Homo sapiens: one gene and its partner. Changing the gene in region 2 together with the main gene of any one other region gives a genetic interaction. Each region holds a gene or a part of one and is shown on either strand. Other genes may lie near its edges.

What was found.
Region 1: changes in FASTKD5 (region 2) and FASN together harm fitness more than expected from each alone (negative genetic interaction), as found in Homo sapiens cells (one large-scale study listed by BioGRID).

The regions. Positions count from the first base shown.
Region 1 is NC_000017.11:82,095,042-82,099,700, forward strand, and holds the start of FASN (fatty acid synthase), read right to left. Parts: upstream 3,196-4,659; 5' UTR 3,080-3,195; intron 1,412-3,079; 5' UTR 1,405-1,411; coding exon 1,278-1,404; intron 432-1,277; coding exon 279-431; intron 1-278. UniProt on the Homo sapiens protein: Fatty acid synthetase is a multifunctional enzyme that catalyzes the de novo biosynthesis of long-chain saturated fatty acids starting from acetyl-CoA and malonyl-CoA in the presence of NADPH.
Region 2 is NC_000020.11:3,153,066-3,157,242, forward strand, and holds part of FASTKD5 (FAST kinase domain-containing protein 5, mitochondrial), read right to left. Parts: intron 1-4,177. UniProt on the Homo sapiens protein: Plays an important role in the processing of non-canonical mitochondrial mRNA precursors.

The DNA.
Region 1 (4,659 bases), on a different chromosome or scaffold from region 2:
CCCCGGCCCCGGCCCCAGCACCAGCCAGACATCAGAAGCGAGGAGACTGGTACGCTCAGGTCAGGGCACACCCGCGACACCTCTGGGGTGCAGTTGGGAAACTGCGGCCTACCCCGTGGCCCACACCTCCCTGAGCCCGTTGGCCAGGCCAGGGGCACAGCCGGGGAGGGTAGGTGGTGCCAGCACCTGGTTCTACCAGAACCAAGAAGAGAAAACACTGCCTATTCCACGTGAGCAGCAGGAGCCCTCGGCGCAGCAGTCGCGAATGCCCGACCCACCTCCGTCCACGATGGCTTCATAGGTGACTTCCAGCAGCAGCCGCAGCTGAGGGTCCATCGTGTGTGCCTGCTTGGGGTGGACTCCGAAGAAGGAGGCATCAAACCTAGACAGGTCCTTCAGCTTGCCGGACCGCCGGGGCAGGCCGTAGAGCCCTGTGGGACAGGCGGGTGTTTAAATCTCTGACGGAAGCTGCCCAGAGGTGGGGGCCCTGTGGGGTGCTGCAGGCCCCTGGAGGGGCCATGGTGGAACTGAGGACTCTCTGCTATGCCTGGGAGGCCCAAACAATGGAGCAGGCTCCCCAGGAGGGGAAGACCATGGCCCCAAAGCGGGGACTGGTACGACCAGATCTGCTGCACAAGCCCCAAGCCCCAAGCCCCAATCCTGAGATGGGCCGCAGAGCAGAGAGCTCGGCGGGAGTGAGGCTGGGGGACCATCTGCCGGGCTGGTGCCTCGGCTCTACCATGCTGACTCACAGCTTGCCTGTCAGGTAGAGCTGCTCTGTGGAAGAGCCTACTGGGTGTGGGGCAGTTGCTCCAGCCTCCCGGAGCACATCTGGTATGCAACCTCCCAGCTCAGGACAGACACAGGCAGGGGCAGCCTGGCCGGAAGGGCTCTGGCCCCCCGCACCCCCTGCATGGGTGAGAGACCCCAGCCCGTCACCCATCCTCTGAGCTTGGCTCCTCCGTAACAAGCAGATGGGCCCTGCCTGGGCCAGCCCTCGGCCTTGCAGCCATTGGGGGAGCCTCCTGTTGGCCTTGCAGCCGTTGAGGGAACCTCCTGGCAGGCTGGGCGCATTTTCTAGGCCACTCTGGTGCAATGTCCAGGAAGGAGGCTGCAGCTAGGCCTCGCCCATGGGTGACCAGTGGCTCTGCAGCTGGGACCGGCCTCAGGCCAGTGCCTGGGTGGTGAGGACACAGCACAGCAGGGAGGCTGCTGTGAGGACAAAGGTGGAGATGGAGCTTCACACCCCAGGCACGGGGAGCCCCGCAGCCACATACCCGCCTTCCAGCGACGGTCATCGTCCGTGACCATGTCCACACCGCCGATGAGGTTGTCCCAGAACTCCTGCAAGTTCTCCGACTCTGGCAGCTTCCCGGACATGCCGGCAATCACCACCTCCTCCATGGCTGCTCTGCAGGGCGGGCGGTGTGAGTGCCCCACACATCCCGGCCACGACACCCCCGTCAACAGCCTCGGCACCCAGAACAGGTGGACACCCATGGGGCCAAGCACCACCCTGAGGGTCCGTGCGGGCCCTGGCTCCTGCGGCTCCCTTCCTCATGTGGCCAGTTCCTGGGCCCTGACCCCGCTCTCGCTGGGAGGGGCTGCGTGCTCTGGGAACAGGCCCGCCTCTGGGCCCTGACCCATTCAGTTCAGGGTATTGGCTGGGGTACCCCACTGGAGCCCTGCAGCCCTGGCCTCCCCAGCAGTTACTGGTTTCTGCGCCTGTGTCGGCTTCCACTCGCCTGAGTCTCAGCCTTCCAAGGCTCCTGGAGCTTGTCCCAGGCCATCCCTAGGGCACCAGGGGGCTCACAGTGAGGAGCAGGCAGGGTCACCTGAGATGGGGACAAGGCCTCAGGTGGCCAGCCTGCTAAGGGCCATCAAAGAAATGGAGAGGCAGGGTCCCAAAGCCGGGGCATGGAGGTGGCTGGGAGCCCTAGAGGGGGGTACTCAGCACCCATGCTCACCCGTGTTGGGGTGGGGGCCCGCTGTCCAGGCCAGCCCAAGAGCCACCAGGGCTGGGGAGGGACGAAATGGGGATAGCCTATGCTCTGGGGGAAAGGTGGCCCCTGCCCCACTGTGGACCGACCCAGCCAGTCCAACCCCTCCAGCAGGGTCCAACCTGGAGAACCACTCCTGGCCAGGACACGCAGGTGTTGCCTGGCACCCTTCACCTGCGCGGGTGAACCCACAGACGCTTGCCTCCCCATACCAACCCACACACCACAGGAGGCCCTCCCTGGAGCCCAGGTCCCTAAGACCCGGAACGGGTGCCCAGGCCGCCGGCTCCTCCTCCAGCATGAGGGCTGGTGCGGCCCTGGGGGGAGGGGGCGGAGGCCAGCGCTGGTCTGGCCACTTGCACGAGGCCCCAGGGCCTGATACGCGCGCCGCCCCTCGGCAGTGCGGCCTCCCTTGGGCCGTCCCGGCAGGGAGGCGGCCGCCTTCCCACCCGCTGCGATTCACAGAGGCTTGGCTGCCCCGGGCCAGCTCCAGGCCCGCACGCTGGGTCCTCGCCGCTTGCTATTCACGCGGGGTCGACGGCCAGGCAGGGGGTGGGAACACCGCGGCGCGCCCGGCCTCCCTTCGCCCCGGGCGGGGGCTGCTCGGGACCCCTGCGCTTCGGCCGGGCTGCGCCACGTGATGGGGAGGCCGGTCCCGGCGCGGCCCCTGCGCCCCCCCGTTCCTCCCTCGCGGCGTCCCCTTCGGGCTGGGCCTCGGCTCCGGGGCGGCTCCGGGAGGAGGATGCGGCGGCGCCTTTGTGGGCGCGGGGAGGCCGAGCCGGGGGCTCCTCCAGGCCCTTCAGGGTCCGCGGCCTCCCCCACGGGAAGCGAAGGCGGCTGTTGGTGGCTTTCCCCGGCGTCCTTCCCCCGCCATCCGCCCACCTACTCCGCGGGGCCCCGGGCGCCTCCGAAGGGGCACGAACACCGAGACCCGGACAGGCCGCCCAGGCGACCCCTGGATACGGGGCCGGGCCACGCGCGCCCCGAGAGCGGAGGATGAGGAGCCGGGCCACCCCGGGAACCCCGGGCCCAGCCCCGACCACGACCCGCGCCCCGGCCCCAGCGCCGGCTGCTCGTACCTGGTGAGGGCGCGGGCGGCGGTGCGGGCGGCGGAGAGCGAGGCTGGAGCGCGGCGGAGCGGGAGGCTGAAGCGCGGCGGAGAGGGAGGCCGGGGCCGCTGCCGTCTCTCTGGCTCCCTCTAGGCCGGCGCCGACGCTATTTAAACCGCGGCCATCCCCGGGCGGCCACGCCACATGGGCTGACAGCTTGGCTGCGCCGCCCAGGCCAATGAGCGTCGGGGCTGCGCCCCGGGACCCGGCGCGCCGCCGCCGGTGGGGTGATGCTCGTGCGCGCCGCCGCCCGAGCCGGGACCCTGCGCGGGAACGCGCCTGGGGGGGTGGGGCTGGGACTGAGGAGCGCCGGGGGCGGGGCGGGCGGGAAACCACCGCCCCCCGACTTCCGCCTCCCGCCCCGCGGGCCCCGACGCGCACGCGGCTGCGACCGAGCCCGCGGCGCGCCTCCCGAGCCATCCCCGACCCCCGTGTCCGCCGGGGCCACGTGTGCGGGATGGGAATGCTTGGGCCACACTGGGGACTACCCCGTGGCCACACCGGGGGTCCAGCCGGCTGCGGCGGGGCGCTCGGACCCACAGGCGCGCGGAAGGACGGACGGACCCGCGTGCCCGCACTTCGGCCGCCGACTCCACGCCGCCGTCGCTGCCCGCGCGGAGCTGGCTGAGGGCGCGGCGTTGCGCGGCGCGGCGGCAGCAGCAACCAATCGGGCGCCAGGGGTGTTCGCACCGGCCCAATGGCGGCGCGCGGGTGGGCGTTGCTAGGCGATAGGGTGATGGGCGGGCGGCGGGGCGGTCCCGGATGCCTCGCGGGCCGCGGCGCAAGTGCGGGCGTTGACCCCGGCCGCGGGCGCCCCGGCCGGGGTTACTGCCGGTCATCGCAGCGCATCCCCGGTTTTCCTCGCGGGTGCGGCGGGGAACCCAGACCCGAGACGGACGTCCACCCACCCGACGGCCCCTCCTTAGCAGCTTCCCGGGGACCCGGACGAGGCGCAGGGCCGAACGGGCGAGCGCACTCCAGGCCGCTGGAGCTCGGCGGAGGGGAGGGGCGCGGCCACGTGGCGAGCGGAGTCGGCCGGGACACCCACCTGGTGTGGTGCGGACAAAGGGAGCCGCTGCCCCACTTCCCAGGGCGGAGGCTGCGAGTTTTCCAGGCGCGCACCCACGGGCGGGGGCTCAGCCCGGCCCTCGCGCGCTCCCTCCCTCCCGAGTGATTCCTCGAATCGTGGCCCCTTGGGCGGCCTGAGCCCTGAAGCGCGGCCTCCCTTTTCTGACCGCTTCGCGCTTGCGGGGCCAGGCACCCCATGGGGGGCAAGCGGGCCTTGTGAGGCCACAGGTGTCTCTGGCTGCGTGTCCTACTTTGAGGGCTCAGCAAGCCCGGGCCGCTGAAGGGGAACCGGAGACTGGGGCCCCCGGCCCCTCTGCAGGTGTCCCGCTTCCTTCCTCTCCTGAGAGCAGGCCTGAGGGTCAGGCGGCCACTCCGCGTCTTTTCCCTTCTGGGGCTGTGGTTGACGCACGGTGGGACCGAGGGTCAAGGAAGGACAAGGGAAGACAGGGCCGGGGCTGGCCCCGCACTGCTGTCCCCACTGC
Region 2 (4,177 bases):
CACTAATATTGAGTGGAACAAATAGCACATAAACAAGAATTAACAAATATCTCTATAAATGATATTAATTTTAAAACATTAAATAATTAAAATTACTTCAATTAATTCTACCTAAGAGTACTTAATGAAATTACTATACGTGGTCTGGAAATAAAAGAACCATCTCCTAGAACATCAATGTTTGGTGCAGCTCCAGTGTTTTGAATTCATGTGACACTTTTTGATTTGTAAAAACACAGGCTAAGATCCAAGATGGAAATAACCAGAGCTATGCCTTAGGGCCTCCTCTGTGCCAAGGCTTAGAGCCTTGTAAAGCTGCTTTATCTGCATTAGTTCCCATCCTTATAACATCTCTGTAATGTAAGTTTATAATCCCCATATTACTGATGAGAAAGAGACCACAAGATTAAGAAACCTGCCAAAAGTTACACAGCCAAGGGATTGAGTGGAGCCTAATATTAAAGACTGTCTGACTCTTCAGCCCACATTATTGGTGTACTAGAGAGACAAGAATGGATGTCAGAAAACAGGTTCGGGGGGCAGTACGGGGTGGGATGGCTGAACAATCTATGGTCTTCTAGGATTTCCAGGTGCCAGGGAGCTGGAGGGTTAGAACTAGGTAAGCTTGAAAGTCCCTTCCACCTCTAACAGTCTACGATTCTATCACTACGGTTTATACTGCAAGTTGAGTATCCCTTGTCCAAAATGCTTGAGACCAGAAGTGTTTCAGATTTTAAACTTTTTCAGTTTTTGGACTATGTGCTTTATACTGACCAGTGAGCATTCCAAATTCAAAAATCCAAAATCTGAAATACTCCAATCATTTTTTTTTCCTTTGAGTATCATGTTGGTGCTCAAAAAGTTTCAGATTTTGGAGCATTTTGCATTTTGGAGTTTCAGGTTTGGAATGCTCAACCTGTACTTTAAAAAAGAACAAAGAGAAGACCTCAAAGGCTGAAATCTACATGAGGCAAAGAGTTCGCAGGATGCTCCAGGATCAAAGTAAGGAGAGCTACCACAATTGAAGACCTGAAAGTTGGCAGTAGAGATATGGGATCCAGAAACTAGGGTTCAATACAGAGAAGCAAAGGGAAATCCCAGGAAAAAGGTGAAGGAAGATCCCAGGACAAGAGCTGTGAACAGACATAAAGAGCAACCAGCTCATGCTGGACGACATAGACAGTACCCAGGAGAGGAGAATCATACTTCTACCGGATAATCCGGGCATGAACAAGAGATAAGGATACAAAAAGCCATGCTAATAAAAACAGTAACAAAAATTATTAATGCCAGGGAAGACAAAAAAGTTATACAAGATAGAATATGTTACCACAGGCAGGATGCAATGGCCCATTCCTGTAATCATAGTACTCTGGGAGGCCAAAGTGAGAAGATCACTTGAGGCCGGGAGTTTGAGACCAGCCTGGGCAATGTAGTGAGACCCCCACCTCTACAAAATATTTAGAAATTAGCCAAGCCTGGTGGCACACACCTGTGGTCCTAGCTACTCAGGAGGTAGAAGTGGGAAGGTTGCTTGAGCCCAAAAAGTTAAGGCTGCAGTGAGCTGTGATCCTGCTATGGCAGGGTGACAGAGAGAGACCCTATCTCAAAAAATAAATAAATAAATAAAAAGAGTAAAGAAAATATTAGTATATCATACTCCCTATTCAGTTGAGAATAATACTAACATAATTTTATTAATATAAATCTTGATATTAGCCTAACCAAAAATTATGAGCAAACTATATTGGGAGGATAAAGTGAGTAAGAGGAGGAGTAGGGGGAGGTTGATGATACAAGAGACCTAGAGCCTCAAAGTCCATAATAAAGAAGTACAATTGGACAGGTGTGGTGGCTCACAACTGTAATCCCAATATTTTGGGAGGCTGAGGCAGGAGGATCACTTGAACCCAGGAGGCAGAGGTTGCAGTGAACCAAGATCGTGCCACTGCACTCCAGCCTGGGCGACAGAGCAAGACACAGTCTCAAAAAAAAAAAAAAAAAAAAGAAAAGAAAAGAAAAGAAAAAATAAATATAGTGATGGCCAGGATCAGTGAGTGGCTCACACCTGTAATCCCAGCACTTTGGGAAGCTGAGGTGGGCGGATTGCTTTAGGCCAGGAGTTCTAGACCAGCCTGGGTAACATGGTGAAACCCTGTCTCTACTAAAAATACAAAAAGTAGGCTGGGCACAGCGGCTCAAGTCTGTAATCCCAGCACTTTGGAAGGCTGAGGCAGGAGGATCACCTGAGGTCAGGAGTTTGAGACCAGCCTGGCCAACGTGGCGAAACCACGTCTCTCCTAAAAATACAAAAAATTAGCCAGGCATGGTGGCAGGCACCTGTAATCTCAGCTACTCAGAAGGCCGAGGCAGGAGAATCACTTGAACCCGCGAGGCAGAGGTTGTGGTGAGGCGAGGTCGCACCACTGCACTCCAGTCTGGGCAACAGAGCGAAACTCCATCTCAAAAAAAAAAAGTGGGTCGGGAGAGGAAACTATTATTTAGTGTTACAAGCTCTACTGAACTATTTGACTGTTTAAACCATGTACATGTACAATTTTGACAAAAATTAAATTAAAAAATCCATGTATTATGAAGATATTATGGTATTGTTCAAGATAATGAATGGAGAAAGTAGCTTAATAGATAAGGAAAATGTTGAAAAGTTATTTTTAGTGCAAGCACTTTCTACTACCTAAGAACTTCTTTAAAGATGTTCAATAACAGAAATGATAACAAAATAAGGAATCTTAGAGGCATGAAGAGCCAACCTACAAATGGTAAACAGTGGCTACTTACTCTTTTCACTATGCAACATTTACAGTAACTCTATAGAAACTGTATCTACATACACAGGTCTGAAACAGAGGACTTCAGAAGTTGGTCTTGAGTACTGTGGAGAAGGAAAGAAAAACAAGGAAGATACAGAAGCAGCAGAGAAGAACAGTAGGGAGAAAAGACACTGCAAAGAAGCAGCAGTCAGGATGACCAGATAGCGAAAACATACCTGAGAAGGTTAGTTCCTCCTTACTCAAAGACTCTCAGAAAATCCATAGGAAAGCTGGAAAGAGAACACTATGAGATGCTCAGTCAATTAACTTCTGACTCTTTTTTTTTTTTTTTTTTTTGAGACAGAGTCTTGCTCTGTTGCCCAGGCTGGAGTGCAGTGGCGTGATCTCAGCTCACTGCAACCTCTGCATCCCGGGTTTAAGTAATTCTCCTGCCTCAGCCTCCCAAGTAGCTGAGACTAAAGGCTCACGCCAACATGCCCACCTAATTTTTTTGTATTTTTTGGTAGAGACGGGGTTTTGCCATGTTGGTCAGGCTGGTCTCAAACTCCTGGCCTCAAGTGATCCACCTGCCTTGGCCTCCCAAAGTACTGAGTACAGGCAGGAGCCACCACGCCCGGCCTGACTCTTTCAATAAAGGTCAAAGATACCTGATATGATTTCACAAAACTCCTTTCCTAGTTTAAGTGCCCCAAGTATACCTTTCTCCCCTTTAGGGGTCCTAACGAAACAGAGTAGAGCCTCAGACACTCCTGGACCCTGTCAGTTCCAAAAGGCAATGCCCAAACCTCCCTGAATGATGTGATTTCACAGGACTGAAGAATCTTACCTTTCTCCCTTCCACATACCGGTCTGAGCAGAGCCGAATAGCTTCATTTTAAACTAGAGTCTAGAAGTTAGAGGAGGGGGGCCAGGCAGAGGAAGGAGCGATGCTAACTGTAGACTGAGTATAAGACACCTTAAACACATACAATTTACCACTTACCAGATCTGATCCCTCAATTCTAACACTTTTCCTTTCTATGTCCCAATAAAATTGCCACAAATAAATGAACACTCCAACCCTATTCTTGTCTCAGCAAATAATTTGTTGAGCAACCTTAAGAATTAAAAAGGCAAAAAAACTGGCTAGACAGGTGGCTCATGACCATAATCCCAGCACTTTGGAAGGCCGAGCAGGCAGATCACGTGAGGCCAGGAGTTCAAGACCAGTCTGGGCTACATGGCGAGACCCTGTCTCTACCAAAAAAAAAGGGCAAAAAAACCGAACTTTCTCTAGGTGCTGAGGTATTCTGCTGAGAATCTACAAAACTTCAAAGCCCCTAGTGAGGGCTTAGAGACTGGCAGTAAGGACCTTAGCTGTTAATGTGGATGTTAACTGGGCTAGA